Regions from separate parts of the Homo sapiens genome. Here region 2 is linked to region 1. The links come from fine-mapping of genetic effects on gene expression. Tissue or cell type: macrophages. Region 1 holds a variant in brackets; the other region holds the start of a gene. All regions are shown on one strand. Distances are between the middles of the regions.

Region 1 (8,000 bases):
TAAAAAGTTGATTCACTAATTGGATTTAAGTGCCACAGGACTCTTCACACATTATTTTAATCAATTTGTTGGAAAGATCAATTTTCTCATGGATGAATGCATATAAAAATGAAGCAATTGAATGAGTTACATAGGAAGGTTGGCACATCTAATTCCCTAGAGGTTCTAGGAACAGGTTCTTAATTATATATCTGAAATGGTTTGAGGTTTTTAAATGAAATTTGTCTAGAAGCAGGAAGATGCAATACCCATCTATCCAGGCCTGTATTTCTGGATCCCCATCTTATCTAATATTTAATAGTTGATCCTGAAGTTGAGATATTATCCCTTTATTCTTTTAAAAAAAATTTTTTTGTATGTGTGCCATTTTAAAGTAATTAACAGAGTAGTTTGTGTTAGTTTTGGTTAAGTGTTATAAAGCCAGTTTTTTTTTAAAGGAAGTCCTGGAGGCCTTTTTGTATTGACTGTTAGAGAGGACAGTGAGTGTAAACACAAGTTTTTAAAGTTTAAAGTTACAGTGCCCACTATAAAGGACTACAATTAATGTGAAAAGTAGTTTTAAAGTTAAAATTTATATATCGCTGTTTGTGCTTATATAATACTTCCCACTCTCCCCAAACATAGAGGTATTCTGATTCTGAAAATAAGCCTTTTTTAGTACCATTATGTGTATACATATATATTTTATTTTATTTTTCTTTATATTAGTCATTGTGGTTAAATGATTTATTGGTAGCTGATGAGTCACAAGTATGTTTCTCATTCTCTAATGAGTCACCTAGCTACCTACAAGTTTGTTTATTTTCTTTCCTTTCTAGATCTTTCACCTAAAATAGGTGTTTTACTAGTTGGTAGGTTAAAATTTCAGTTTGCTACATTAACTTTTTTTTTTTTTTTGGAGACGGGAGACGGAGTCTCGCTTTGTCACCTAGGCTGGAATGCAGTGGCACAATCTTGACTCTCTGCAGCCTCTGCCTCCCAGGTTAAAGCGATTCTCTACCTCAGCCTCCCGAGTATCTAGGACTACAGGCACACGCTACCACGCCCAGCTAAATTTTTTTTGTGTACTTTTAGTGGAGACGGGGTTTCACCATGTTGGCCAGGCTGCTCTCAAACTCCTGACCTCAAGTGATCCACCCGCCCTGGCCTCCCAAAGTGCTGAGATTACAGGCATGAGCCACTGTACCCAGCCTACATTAACTATTAGATCTGGAAAATACCAAAATAATACTCAGAAGAAGTCTCATTGATTTTTACAAACTTGTATTTAGCACGTGCTCTGGTCCAGGTACTCTGCTGGGCTTGAGTATGCAAAGATTTATGTGTGTCATATATATCTTAGGAGAAGCTTAATTTTGGGAGAGGGCAAGGGAGATAAACAACTGCATGCAGAGGCAGGGTATACAGGTGCTGTGATAGGAGTGTATATTGTCTGTAGTTGAGGCCCAAAGAGAGGTGTGCATGTGGATACCCCTTGAGCATCCATATGGATAAGTTGGTGAATGTAGGCAAGGCCATTATACTGTTGTGTATTGCAACTCCTTGAACAGTTGCACCTACATTTTATACCTCTTTGTTGGAACAGGGTATTTATCTGTTAGAGGAAAAACAGCTTCTATTTTCAGTCCTGTCCACTGCAACATCTGTATTGAAAATTTGGATAATGCTAAAGGTGTGCTAAGAAAAAAAACGGGTCTAAAATCTGCTGTCAGAAATTTTCAGATCGTTTGTGGGATTAATTCTCCTGGGCTAAATATAACTTTGTATAAAACAATATGAAATTATTATTTAAAGATTTTGCTGAATTTCTACTAAGGTTGGCAACAACAGCAAAACATCAAGATACATCAGTGTTACTGGGGAAGGTAGTATGATTCCTGGACATTTGGGAAACTATTACTAAAGGGCCTATTATTTTCAGTTGTTGTTGTTTTTTTGTTTTTTTTTTTTTCACAGAAACTATAAAGCAATCTAGCAGCTCATGAGCTTCTAAGAATGAAAATGTATTATTTCATAGTGAGCTGATGATGCATTCTGAGATATTTAAATTTAGTTCTAATTTGTCAGTCTGTAACAGAACTGTCTAGTGCAATAATCATTAAATGATCTTATTAGCTATGTGATGGTAGTCTAATTACTTAACCTTGTAGAGTCTCAGTTTTCTCATCTGTAAAATGTTGATAATACCTACCGTGTAGGCCTTTGTGAAGCGCAAATGAGATAGTGTCTACCTAAAGCACTTCACACAGAACCTGGAACATAAAAGGGAATTGCTAAAGAAATAATAGAAATAATACTTTAGGGATTTAGTTGTTAAATCTCTTTTCTTTTTTCTCTTTTTTCTTTCTTTCTTTTTTTTTTTTTTCTGAGATGGAGTCTCGTTCTGTCACCCAGGCAGGAGTGCAGTGGCACGATCTCTGCTCACTGTAACCTCTGTCTCCTGGGTTCAAGCAATTCTTCTGCCTCAGCCTCCAGAGTAGCTGGGGCTACAGGGCCACGCCACCACACCCAGCTAATTTTTTTGTATTTTTAGTAGAGACTGGGTTTCACCATGTTGGCCACGCTGGTCTTAAACTCCTGACCTCAGGTCATCCACCCACCCCGACCTCCCAGAAGTGCTGGGATTACAGGCATGAGCCACCGTGCCTGGGCTAAAATCACTTTCATTTGAGCTATAAAAATAAAAGTGTGTTTGCCAGGCATGGTGGCTCACGCCTGTAATCCCACCACTTTGGGAAGCAGAGGCAGGTGGATCACTTGAGCCCAGGAGTTCGAGACCATCCTGGGCAACATGATGAAACCCTGTCTCTACATAAAATACAGAAATTAGCCGGGCGTGGTGGTGCCTGCCTGTAGTCCCAGCTACTCAGGAGTCTGAAGTGGGAGGGTCACTTGAACCTAGGAGATGAGTTTGCAGTGAGTTGATCCCAGTGATTCTTCTCTATATGCTCAGGAGGACTCGTCAGAGTCAAAACCTGATACTGGGACCCAGCAGCAAGAGATAAACTGCTTTTTCCCCCGATTTATGTCTCCATTTATTTGCAAGATGGTGACCTCTTTGACTGGAGTTGTGTGCTGTTAAATATTTTTTCACGTGTCTCCTATACAGAAATTATACCTTCACCCTTGATTTTCAGATCATCTACGGTAGCCATTTCTCAGGGTTTATGATTCTTGTTCTCTACCCCAGTGCTCTCCAAAGTGTGATATGCTCAAGATTACCCATTGAGGGAAAGAAAATAATTCAACTTCCTTCATTCCGCCTACCCTTTCTTCCCTGCTTTTTTCTTTTATCTAAAAGGATGAGAATGAATTTGAGTTTTTCCAATAGTTAATTTATACATAAACACTGGACCCATAACTTGGATTGCTTCTCAGAAGGTTACATATCACCTATAGCATGTGAGGTTTCTGAAGGAAGATTGTGGGATTCCAGTAATGAAAAGAAGCTAGCAGTGGTACCCTCATTCTCCTCTCTCCTCCCTTCTTTCTTCCCCTCCCCTCCTTTCCTCTCCTGTAGATATTATGCCATCTTCATATACAATGTCAGTTAAAACCATATAATCAGACTCTTTCTACAGTCAGTAGAATTTTATTCTTCTACTGCAGTAATGTACGCAAGTATTCCTGTCTCTCTTGTTTTGACTCTATTTTATATATACACACATAAAACCCTCGGATAGTCTGACCCTTTTTCACAAATGGAACCTTTTTGATTTTAATGTTTTTTCTTCTGAATTCACTCATGTCTACAGTAAGACAAAAATGGATGTAGATACAGATGTAGCTGTATAGAGATAATAGGGCTAAATTGTCCAAAATCATGGAATAGTTTTACTAATGTCTAAATAGGTTATGATTTTTAACAGCTGCATATAATAAGGGGAAATACTGAGATTGGAAGGGTTAAAAAAAATTAACTGTTCTCTATGTCTGATTAATCCTGCCTTCTTTCCCGTTGATTCAGTAGAACAATTTGTAATTGCAGAAATTTATAATAGCTTTGGCCCTAGCTTAAGAAATAGTTTGTGGTTTCAGAAGTTAATTTGTAAGTTGTTTCGTCCTGGAAACAATGTTCTAAGTGGTAGTTGTTTTCTAGACTAGCTGATCTAATATTTTAGCACTCAGTACTACGAAATTAAAGTACTAAAGGTAGATATAGTTCCATGTTTCAGGTCCTGGGTTAAAAGAGTCATCTGGTACTTTTGAATGAGAAAGAAGAGGGAATTTTTTTTTGCTTTAATTGGACCTACAGCCAGCCCTGGGCAGAGTATCTTTGACTACATTCCACCTTCTTTCTAGAAGGATACTAGCATGACGCTCAGTCCTTAAAAGCAGATGTGTTTGGGCCGGGCGCGATGGCTCATGCCTGTAATCCCAGCAGTTTGGGAGGCCAAGACGGGTGGATCACCTGAGGTCAGGAGTTCAAGACCACCCTGGCCAACATGGTGAAACCCTGTCTCTGCTAAACATACAAAAATTAGCCAGGCATGGTGGCACATGCCTGTAATCCCAGCTACTCAGGAGGCTGAGACAGGAGAATCACTTGAACCCGGGAGGCGGAGGTTGCAATGAGTCAAGATGGAGCCACTGCACTCCAGCCTAGGTGACAGAGACAAGACCCTGTCTCAAAAAAAAAAAAGTAGATGTGTTTGACTTGAGTTGGCCTGAAGAAGACTGTCTGATAATGGAAGGTGCAGAGGGCCAGCAAATGCCTTCTAATAGGAGTCAAAGTTTGTGAGA[C/T]GAGGGGACCAAGGGGTCAGGGATATAGAAGAAAGGTAGCAGAGTGGACCTCTACTTGGGACAGGTCAGGTTGCTTGATGAAGCAGTACATTGATCGATACAGAGGAGAAAACCTTCCTTGTGAAGATGTGTGAGATAAGCAATAGAATTCTCACCAGGCCTGAATATACACTCAGTTATCACATTTACTGGTAGGTGGCAGTCAAATTGAAGATAGATTCAGTTCAGTGACACTAGATTGCAAGTATTAGAAAACTTTGTAACAGTCCACTGGAGCCTCTTGATCCCTTCAAGCCTCAGAAGAGCCTTATCTTAGTTCACCAACTACTTCTTTTGCCATAATAAATTCTGAGTTTCTTCAGTAGTCAAGATTTTAGCTAGGTATTAGGTGATAGCCCCAGTGCAGGAGACTTACGAGAGTACAAGAGATATGCATGCTGTTGATTTTTTTTTTTTAAGTTAGTTGGTAACAGACATAAAGATTTCTAGGCAGTGTAGCCAAGTGACATAAACAATTTTCTTTCTTAACTACTCTTCACCTATTATCCTCATTTTGATCCTTTTTCATTGAAATGGATTCTGGTGTTCTCTTGTTTAAAGTAAGTACTGTCTGGTTTCTGGAATGTCTAATTGCACCACAACTACTAAAGACCCAAATCCTCATCAGAATGAATAGAATTTTTCCATGAAAATTAAATCTTATCCTTTTCATCAACTATATTGTGATATACTTTGTCAGTACAAGAATATACACAAAAGTAAAACTGGTACATTTTGTATGGGAATCACCATTTTGGAGTATACATTTTCTTCCTTGGTTATGTACTAGTGATTAAAAAAATAATCATTGTGTTTAATAAGCTACTTTATAAATTTTGTATTTTAGAATTTCAGTGTCTGGTGTTCAGAATTCAAGTTATTATAAAAATAAGCTGTCCAGGAGATGCATTTATTTTACACTCATCATATATTAAACTTCATATAGGCACCCTTTTAAATGGGAGTACACAATCCAATAATCATAAATCTGATGACGGAGTATACTCAGAAGCTAAAGGTAGTGAGGATTTAATTGCAAAACAGCACGCTAATGTCCTCTTATTACCTTAAAATCTTTTCAGTTGACCGTCTTCTATTATTTAATTCCATCACATACCAGTAATTGCATTTATTGAAGCCAGTATTTCTCATTATAGGAAATGCTGATCTTAGTGATTCTCAAAAATAGGGAGGGAAATGTTCTTTAATAAATAATTAAAAGACTTTTTACTACTTTTCCCAATTCGGTACTGGTTTTATTACCTTTTATGTCCAGAGTATTTTATAAGTGGTAACTAAATTATGGCATCTAAAAAATCATCTCTTCAAGGAATCTCACAAGGTATGCTACGTAATAGCTTATTCTAAGTAGGTTAAATAGACTGGCTTTATCTCAAGTGGCTTACTGTATTAAAAAAGAGTTTAACATATTCAGCTTTACTGCTGAAACACCAGAGGAGTTCTGACACCTCTGATGAGATGATTCAAGTTGGGAATTTTTTCTCTTGACAGCATCAACAAAGAGAGCATTGTGGATGTAGAAGGTGTTGTGAGAAAAGTGAATCAGAAAATTGGAAGCTGTACACAGCAAGACGTTGAGTTACATGTTCAGAAGGTAAGTTTTTTCAAAATATAAAATCGCATATAGAAATAGATTTGGGTTCTAATAGTTTTCATGTCAAATTTATATGTTCTTACTAATTAATGTAAAATACTGAGGTTTATAAATTAGTTACTGAATCAATTAGCTTTTGTTATATAACAAATCACCCCAGTACTTAGTGACTTGAAACAACAAACATTTATTTGCTTACAATTCTGTGATGCACCCAACTGAGATGGCTCATCTGCTCCATGCAACATTGGCTGGGCTCACTGATAAATCTGGCACATCTCTTTCTGTGGCTTCCTCTCATCCAGCAGGCTAGCCCAGATATGTTGATATTCAGGTACCAGGAGGGTTCCCAAAGGCAAGAGTGCGAAACCCTAAGAACAGACACTTTTCAAGCTTCTACTTGTGTCACATCTGCTAAATATTCCACTCGTCAAAGTCACACAGCAAAACTTAGATTTAAGGGGTAGAGAAATAGATTCTAGCCCTTGATGGGAGGAAAAGCAACATGATTGCAGGGGAATATACATGCAGGAGCAAGAGGAAGTATTGCAGCCATTTTTGCAAACAGTCTACCACAGCCACATAGGGAAAAATACAAAACACATCTGAAAAACTACTCACCAATATAAGTGAATAATAATGGACCTATCTTGCTATAAGTTTTTTGATGATGTACTTTTATTTTATTTTATTTTTCAGTTTCCATTTTTACTTTTCCTTTATTTTTATACTTTAAGTTCTAGGATACATGTGCACAACGTGCAGGTTTGCTACATATGTATACATGCGCCATGTTGGTGTGCTGCACCCATTAACTCGTCATTTACATTAGGTATATCTCCTGATGCTGTCCCTCCCCCCTCCCCCCACCCCACTACAGGCCCTGATGTGTGATGTTCCCCTTCCTGTGTCCAAGTGATCTCATTGTTCAATTCCCACCTATGAGTGAGAACATGCGGTGTTTGGTTTTCTGCCCTTGTGATAGTTTGCTGAGAATGATGGTTTCCAGCTTCATCCACGTCCCTACAAAGGACATGAACTCATCCTTTTTTATGGCTGCATAGTATTCCATGGTGTATATGTGCCACATTTTCTTAATCCAGTCTATCATTGATGGACATTTGGGTTGGTATCAAGTTTTTGCTATTGCGAATAGTGCCGCAATAAACGTACGTGTGCATGTGTCTTTATAGCAGCATGATTTATAATCCTTTGGGTATATACCCAGTAATGGGATGGCTGGGTCAAATGGTATTTCTAGTTCTAGATCCCTGAGGAATCACCACACTGACTTCCACAATGGTTGAACTCGTTTACAGTCCCACCAACAGTGTAAAAGTGTTCCTATTTCTCCACATCCTCTCCAGCACCTGTTGTTTCCTGACTTTTTAATGATCGCCATTCTAACTGGTGTGAGATGGTATCTCATTGGTTTTGATTTGCATTTCTCTGATGGCCAGTGATGATGAGCATTTTTTCATGTGTCTTTTGGCTGCATAAATGTCTTCTTTTGAGAAGTGTCTGTTCATATCCTTTGCCCACTTTTTGATGGGGTTGTTTTTTTCTTGTAAATTTGTTGGAGTTCATTGTAGATTCTGAATAT
Region 2 (8,176 bases), 39 kb before region 1:
AAAAAACAAAAAAATTAGCTAGTCTCATAACCCAGTCTTGAAAAAAATAAAGAAATAAAAGAACCACAATGGCACTTCAACCCTCTTAACAGCAACAACTAGGTCCATGGACCTACCCAAAAGTCATTTTCCAGCTCCCTAAATGTATAGTTTGGGATGGATATTGTATTGGAAATTGGCAGAGTCCGACGCTGATTCCTGTCAAGACAGGAACACACAGGACAAGTAAGGAAATGTCAAGGCCTGAATGATTCCATCAGTAAAGCTGTAACATGCTGCTTTTAGATTTAGATGGTTTATTACTTACATAGACAGTGAAAACAAGAATAAGCCCCCAGCCTGGACAACATGGTGAATCCCCATCTCTACAAAAAATACAAAAATTAGCTGAGCATGGTGGTGCACACCCGTAGTCTCAGCTACTCCAAAGGCTGAGGTGGGAGGACCCCTTGAGCCCGGGAGGTCGGGGCTGCAATGAGCCTTGATCGCACCACTGCATTCCAACCTGGGCAACGGAGTGGGACCCTGCCTCAAAAAAAAAAAAAAAAAAAGGCCAGGTGCGGTGGTTCACTACTGTAATCCCAGCACTTTGAGAGGCTAAGGCAGGCGGATCACCTGAGGTCAGGAGTTTGAGACCAGCCTGGCCAACATGGTGAAACCATGCCTACTAAAAATACAAAAATTAGCCAGGCATGGTGGCGGGCACCTGTAATCCCAGCTACTCGGGAGGCTGAGGCAGGAGAATCACTTGAACTTGGGAGGTGGAGGTTGCAGTGAGCCAAGATCATGACACTTCACACCAGCCTGGGAGACAAAGGGACACTCTGTCTCAAAAAAAAAAAAAATTAAATTAAAAAAAAGAGAGAGAGAAAGAAGAATAAGCCAAAGTTGCCAGCTCCCTGTGATTCTTGTCCCATTAAGGACATCACTGAAACAAAAGGCACCAAATGACTGCAACATGAGTAGTGGGACACTCTGTTGCTTAACAGCCACTTCTAGACTCCAGTTAAGCAGTAAGATATTATATACATTTTTGTATTCTGCATTTCCCTTGAGGGAAGGGGGCAAGAAGTCCCACACCTCATCAGAATCTAGGAGGTAGTAAGAAACCATCCCATAACAGCCTCTCAGGGAGACAGGGAAGTGAGTGGGAGATGGCCTTCCACCCTCTCATGTTCCAGCAGGATCACAAGATGTTTTTCCAAGATTCAGGTTAGCTGCAGTTCCCGCCCTTGCCTACATGGCTTATGTGGATCCTGCAAAGCAGCCAGAGCACCATAGCAGAGCTGTTCCCCTATTCTTTGGTCTGTGGAATAGGCTACCATACCGGATAAAGCTAAGAGGAAATCTCTAAAAGTCACTTTCCCAGCCCCCAACTAGGATAGGAAATCATAAACAATAACATGTCCCCAAGGGGAATAGTGGAGATCAGTGCAACCCTTAAAGACGTAATGGTTGGTAGTCTCCATCACATTCCTATTGTCACCGGTGTGGCTCCAGCAAAAACCAGACAAATTCAGGAACTTGACAGTAGACTACTGCAAGTTCAACCAAGTCACAGCCTCAGTTGCAGCTGTGGTATCTTTACTACAGCAGATTCTTAAGACCTCAGGCATATGACATGTGGCCACTGATCTGGCAAATGCTTCTTTTCTATCACTATCAGGAAAGGAGGCCAGAAACAAGAATATATATTTACAGTCTTATTCCAGGACTAAATAAGAATACTTTTATCAAGGCAACGGGGCCAAAGTAAGAAAGAAGTACATGGACAGGCCTCATGGACAGATGGAAAGGTAAGATCGCTACCCTAGCAAAGGGATAATAGATGGGATTTGTATTCAGATTTCTGATAACCAGTCCATACATTAGGACTATACCTGATTGAGGCAATCCAAGTTTTAAAAAAAATTCCAAGATGAAGCAACTTCACAGACCCCCTTCTGTATTCGAATCCCATGAGTATAATGGGATGCCTTTTTTAACGGAATGTGATACTGATCATGAATATTCAGTGTTGCTCCCCAAGGAATGAGTAAATTCTCCTGCCCCCATGAACTCAGGAATGACGATGTGACTTGTTCTCGCCAATAAACTAGGAGAATGTGAAATGTGTCACTTCCAGGCAGCCATTTTAAGAGCTAAATTCTCTTCCTGACTCTGTAATAATGGAAGCATGTATCAAGATGGCGCATCTATCAGCCTAGGTACCTGTGTAATATTAAGAACAGGAACTAGGACTTATCTTTTTATTGCCAGCACCTGATAGAATGCCTGGCACAAAGTAGATGTTTGTAAATAATCTTTGATCAATTAAATAGGGAATAAAATTTCATACCACCTGCAATTAGAAGGAAAGCTACAGGCAAGCAAGGACCATGGCTGTCTTCTCACTACTCCATGGGGGAGCCTCCAGAGAGAGCCTTTCACTTGCGCTGGGATCTATGTGCACCCCTTAACACTTTGTGCCAGACTAAGACACTACCAAGTCAGTTGAAACGACGGAGTGCAAACTCTGGCAGGGGAAACAGTATTAAACCAAATCTCCAAATTATTTTCAATTTCGATTCAAAACTCATGAATGATAGCTTTTTTAAAAAATCAGTTTTTTAAAAAAGCCTAACTTGGGGATATTCGCCCATTGGGCAACCAACACTATGCACTGTCCCTAACACTGCAACAGATCCAGGCAATCAATGCAATTGTATGCGTTTCTTGTTGTCGTTGCCACTGTATTTACACCTCACTTACACAGGGACTGGTAACCCATGCTGCCTTGGCAAGCCAACTGCACTCCTCTGTCCCAACAAGCAGGGCAATGGATTGCGAAGAGGCCTCCTCCGTCCCCAAGCAGCTACGTCGCCCAGGGGAAGAGAGAAGGCGGGAAAGTCCAAGAGAGGAGAAACCAAGGCCCGCGCTTAGGTGGGTGTTTTAGTGACGAGTCTGCGGTTACAGCCGAGCGGAGTTGAAAGGGCTGTTAGAAGAATGGAGCAGAAGTCGCAGTTGGGACGAAGCTGAAGAGAGCTGGCATTCGCCCAGGTCTACAGCCAGCCACCTGGTAACCCCTGCCCCCGCCCCCAGAGCCAATCCAGCGAAACTACCGCGAATTCCCGGGAATTCCCTCCAACTCCGGGAAAACTCCCGGAGGGGCGGGGCAAGAGTGGGAGGAGACCCTGCGCGCGGCCGCCAGCGCTCCGGGATCTCGAGATAGCCGCAGCTCTCGCGATCTTTCTGGAGCCGCACCTCCACGCGGAGTCCGAGCGCGTGTGCTGAGACCCCAGGGTCGGGAGGGCGGAGACTGGGAGGGAGGGAGAAGCCCCTTTGGCCTGCCTTACGGAAGCCTGCGAGGGAGGGTGGTGTCCACTGCCCAGTTCCGTGTCCCGATGCCCAGCGCCAGCGCCAGCCGCAAGAGTCAGGAGAAGCCGCGGGAGATCATGGACGCGGCGGAAGTGGGTTTCCTCCTTTCCTGGGCCTGGGAGGACAGACCCCTGGGCCGGGCTGCGCCGAGGGAGGGAGGAGGGGGAGTGGGGCCCTACAGGTCCTTGTCGGCACGTTCTCCGCAGGCTGCGGGCGTGGGGTCCGGGCGCCTAGAGCCCTTGCCCCAGCAGTGGGGCCAGACCCTCTCCGGACCGCGTTTCTTGCGGGGGTCACCTGGGAGTTTGGCCTACTAGAAGCGTGTCCCCGGGGTGGGGAGGACGGGAAGAACCAGCCGCCCCGGAAGTAGGAGCGCGGCGTCACACTTGAGTCTCTCTGGGTTAGGCACGTCCTGCACGTAATGCACAATCCCTGGGAAAATTTTAATAAGCACTAGTAATCGATATGTACTCAGCCCTCGTGTTCCTAATGCTTTAGCAAGTAATGACAGTACTTAGCAAAACCATCTGCCAATATGTTTAATGACCATTTCCCATGTGACAGCTTTAAAGAACACATGTCATTTTTATTTACTTTCTCCCTCTCAGTGACCCGGTAAGGTAGGTAATAGGAGTTACCGAGAATGCATTTGAGGTGAAGTGACCCCAAATCACGTGGATAATTCATAACACCCAGTGATCCTTCGGTGCTTTTCAGAAATCAAAGTTTGAAACCATCCTACAAGTTATGTGTGCTGTAGTACTGTTAAGCCTTAATTTCCGTCTGGCTCCCTAATTTTTCTATAAGGAGTTCTGAGTTTGTGGTAAGCAACATGAGAAGTAAGGTCATCTTAGAATACTAAATGAGGAAGAGTCACTGAAATATTAATAGTACTAATTATGAATGCAACTTTTTTGTCCTTCACACAATTTAATCTCCTTCTGTTGCCCTCAGGCTTCATTGTGTGACTGTATCTCTCTACTCTGGCCAGGGTTATCTTTTTCTTTAAATTGTTCAGTAAGCGCCTTAAACATGTCTGGTTTTATTTTGGTGTAAACACAAAATCCAGCACCCTCCTGCTCTAAAGGAGAGGATTCCAACAGGTAGCTGTAAAGTGACAGAAACTTAATTGTTTCATACAGATCTTAAGTTACCTTGTAAAAACTAGGGCAATTATTTTTGTGTACTCTTAATCTGCTTAATTACATAAACTATCAGTGTACCCTTACAGATAGTATAGGTCTAGATACAAGGTAGACATTGTGGCAGAGTTATGCCATTTTATAGCTAGAAGAATCTTAGATCATTTTAGAGGTAAAGTAAGATTGAAATAAAGGCCACTTATCTATTTAATAAGTATATTTTGTTAACAGATTGGACCCTAGGTCTTCTGTTTCCTGTTCCTAACTCTAATCTGTAACAAGAAATTTGATATTATTATATTGTCAGTGTCAAACTCCTGTAACCTGGTATCCTGAATCTGGTTTTTAGAAACAGGAAGCTGGTGAATTTTTTGATGATGTTTTACAAAAGGAAAGTTGTAGTTAGCTTATACCCAGCATCTCCAGTTTCTAAAAACTGTGGACATCTGGTGCTCAGAAAGCTTACCCAAAACGTTGGTTCTCTTTGAACATTTCTTCCTGTAATAGGAAGTTAATAAAACTGTGGTACTTCATCCTACTCCCTTCACAGAGGAAATTTATGTCCCTGCTTTGAAGTAGTTTCATCTTTTTGAAGAAGGTAGTTAAGATGTGTTGTACATATGTGTAAATTTTATCTGAGAATGTTATTAAGTATGGTAAATCCATCTAGGAGTGGTGATCTTCAAAACAAACTAACCAGAAACAGTACTTTTCTGTTTTCTGTAGAGTACATATGTAAATGAATGAGAGATTTCCACATTATGAAACTACTGACTTTCTGAATTAATAAAATGATCCTGAAAGTTAAATTCATTTTTATATTCTATTATTAGTATTTATGTGTTTACTGTGCTCTTAGTGTTTACATAAAAAGTCACGATGCAAAAAACTTTTTTTGTAGGATTATGCTAAAGAGAGATATGGAATATCTTCAATGATACAATCACAAGAAAAACCAGGTTAGTAGCTATGTGACAGTAAATAAAGCTTTTTTGCTTTCTAATTCCAGGAAAGCTCTAAATGAAATTTTAAGTAAGGTTGGCATAAATCTGAAGGTATAATTCTGAAAAGCTTAAATGACATTAATAATCCAAGTAGATGTCATAACCCTGTGTAAACATTGTCAGTTTAGGGTTCCAACTCTAGAAAAGGAAAAAAAATGTTATTAGGTATTGTAGGTTAAATGGTATGTTTTAAATGGTAGATTATATTTTTTAAATATTCCTAAATTATTAGGTAAGATTCAACCGTTGTCTAGGAGATAGGAGAGTGGCTAATAACTGCCTTCATCACATGTAGCCTTTTTGCATGCTTTAATAAAGCTACCTCTTTTACTTCCCCCAACCCCCACAACTTTACTTCTCTGACTGTTTTTAGCTATTATTTATTCCTATTTTGCTTGACTCTTCCCAAACATTTATATTTTCACTTATTCTCTACAGCATCCTTGAAAACTAAGGAACCAAAGTTGAAAGATAAGAAACTTGACTTACACAGAGTCTGCCAGACTTGGGATTAGAACCAAAGGCCATCTGACCCTAGAGTCCATGGGTCCTTCCATCTTACATCTTCTCTGGCTTCTTTGGCAGTACTATGATTTGAGTTTTAAAGCCTCCACCCCCACTCCATTTTGTTTACTCGTAGCTTTAGTGTCTGGGAATGAAATGAATTATTCTTAGACCCCAGTCTATCTTTTCTTATAACCGCTCTTTTTTGTTAGTGTATGTTGGCATCTTTATATTTCTTTTTTTTTTTTTTGGGAGACAGAGGCTCGCTCTGTCGCCCAGGCTGGAGTGCAGTGGCATGATCTCGGCTCACTTCAACTTCCGCCTCCCAAGTTCCTACAATTCTCCTGCCTCAGCCTCCTGAGCAGCTGGGACTACAGGCGCACACCGCCACGCCTCACTTTTTTTTTGTATTTTAGTAGAGATGGGGTTTCACTGTGTTGCCCAGGCTGATCTCGAACTCCTGAACTCAAGGCAATCCACCCACCTCGGCCTCCCAAAGTGCTAGGATTACAGGTGTGAGCCACCGCACCCGGCCTTATATTTCTTTGAAATTGACCTGACTCATGTTGTTTCTCTCAGACCTGTAGATTTTTTATTTATAAATGTTTGCCTTTCTTTTACTTCTATTCTATATATGTAATTTCAACAGATTTGTCTTACTTAACTATTTGACAGTAATTTTTCTTTTGGTAGACACTTCAAATTACGTCTCTCACTCTTTGGTGCAGTAATTGTAGACGTTTACATTCTTGCCCATTGGAAGCACTGCTTCCAGTTTAGAGGGCTGCCTATGAATATTATGCTTTGGAAATAAAACACCTCTAGGTTAATTTTATTGTTATATTTGATTTGCCACATGATCACAAAATCACTTTTCTTTCCCAGGCTTGTTGGGAAAGAATACAATAAAAGACCAAAATTCAGAGACTGAGTTGGGAGGATCACTTGAGCCCAGGAATTTGAAACTAGCCTGGGAAACATAGTGAGACCCCATCTCTACAGAAAGTAAAAAAATTAGCTAGGCGTGGTGGCATACACCTTTTATCCCAGCTACTCAGGAGGCTGATGGGAGGATCACTTGAGCCTGTGAGGTCAAGGCTGCGGTGAGCCACGATCACACCACTGGACTTCAGCCTGGGCAACAGAGTGAGACCCTGTCAAAAAAAAAAAAAAGCCAAAATTTCTGAAAATCATTTCCAAAACATAAAGATGAAATAAAGTAATTGAGTACAGGTTGAGTATCCCTTAGCCAAAATGCTTGAGACCACAAAAGTGTTTTGGACTTTATTTTTTTGGACTTTGGAATATTTGCATTATATTTACCACTTGAGCATCCCTAATCTGAAAATCCAAAATCCTCCGATGAGCATCTCCTTTGACCATCATGTCAGCACTCAAAAAGTTTTGGATTTGGGAGCATTCCGGGTTTTCGGGTTAGGAATGCTCAACCTATGTAAAATAGACTATGAGCAATAGAGTATAGGGGATGATATTCCTCTGCCAGGGCAAGCAGGAGGAGACACTTGAGACTTTGTTTTCAGGTTAGGTGTCTTTCTCAACTGTACTTCCTTGAGCTGTAACACAAAGAAGCTCACTGGAGTTTAGGTCTTTAACATAGGCCCAAAGCAGCCATTAACATAATTGCTGTTGTTCTTTTGCTGGCAAATCCACAGACAGTTGCGTTCTTCCACTTAGAGAGAAAGATAACCTATGTATGTAAAATTCGGCCTTTGGTTTTACCTCTGCAAAAATGCCAATTCTTTGCTCAAGGTGGTTTCCTTTCTCATCTGCTTCCATTTCTCTGCATTAATCACTCTGATGCCCATGACTCTTAAAAGTGCAGTTTTCAAACTGAAATCCTACTACCTTGGTTGTTACTGGTTAGCCAGTCATAGTGATGTGAGTATGGCATGGGCTTCGGGTATGTTCGGGTGTATTAAAGGTTGAGAACCCCTATGCTAGTTAATTGCCATGCCACAAGAAAGAAGAGCCATTACCCTTTTTCTTCTCCAAAGTGCTAGTAAAATTATCCTAATTATCGCATATCTCTTAGACTTCTGCTTTTCTGTTTTGTGTGGTTTTGAGTTGTGATTGCTTGGTTAGCCATTGCTTTTTCAGTCTTGGCATTTTCAAATCTGCCTTTTAAAATCTTCTGCTGATGTGTCTGTCTTT

Which allele goes with the higher level. Positions count from the first base shown, and alleles are read on the strand shown. Sizes are in standard deviations (SD) of each study's normalised expression.
With allele T in place of C in region 1, the expression in macrophages of the gene that starts at base 3,226 in region 2 is higher (large effect, 0.94 SD a copy in Nedelec 2016).

Evidence for each region. PIP is the estimated chance that this variant, and not a neighbour inherited with it, causes the effect.
Region 2: it holds the start of DARS1, and the variant in region 1 is fine-mapped to the expression of DARS1 in macrophages (Nedelec 2016, PIP 0.95).

The regions. Positions count from the first base shown.
Region 1 is chr2:135,941,775-135,949,774 of GRCh38, reverse strand. It overlaps DARS1 (aspartyl-tRNA synthetase 1), which reads left to right. Exons shown (of 16, transcript NM_001349.4): 5 at 6,295-6,397. Among named protein-coding and RNA genes, the nearest start is that of DARS1-AS1, 39 kb to the left of the region's middle. The variant C/T (reference allele first, on the strand shown) is at 4,744.
Region 2 is chr2:135,980,676-135,988,851 of GRCh38, reverse strand. It overlaps DARS1 (aspartyl-tRNA synthetase 1), which reads left to right and starts at 3,226. Exons shown (of 16, transcript NM_001349.4): 1 at 3,226-3,449; 2 at 5,398-5,455. The coding sequence starts at 3,384. It overlaps DARS1-AS1 (DARS1 antisense RNA 1), which reads right to left and starts at 3,676. Exons shown (of 4, transcript NR_110199.1): 1 at 3,336-3,676. RefSeq lists an enhancer at 3,380-3,479 and a silencer at 3,530-3,589.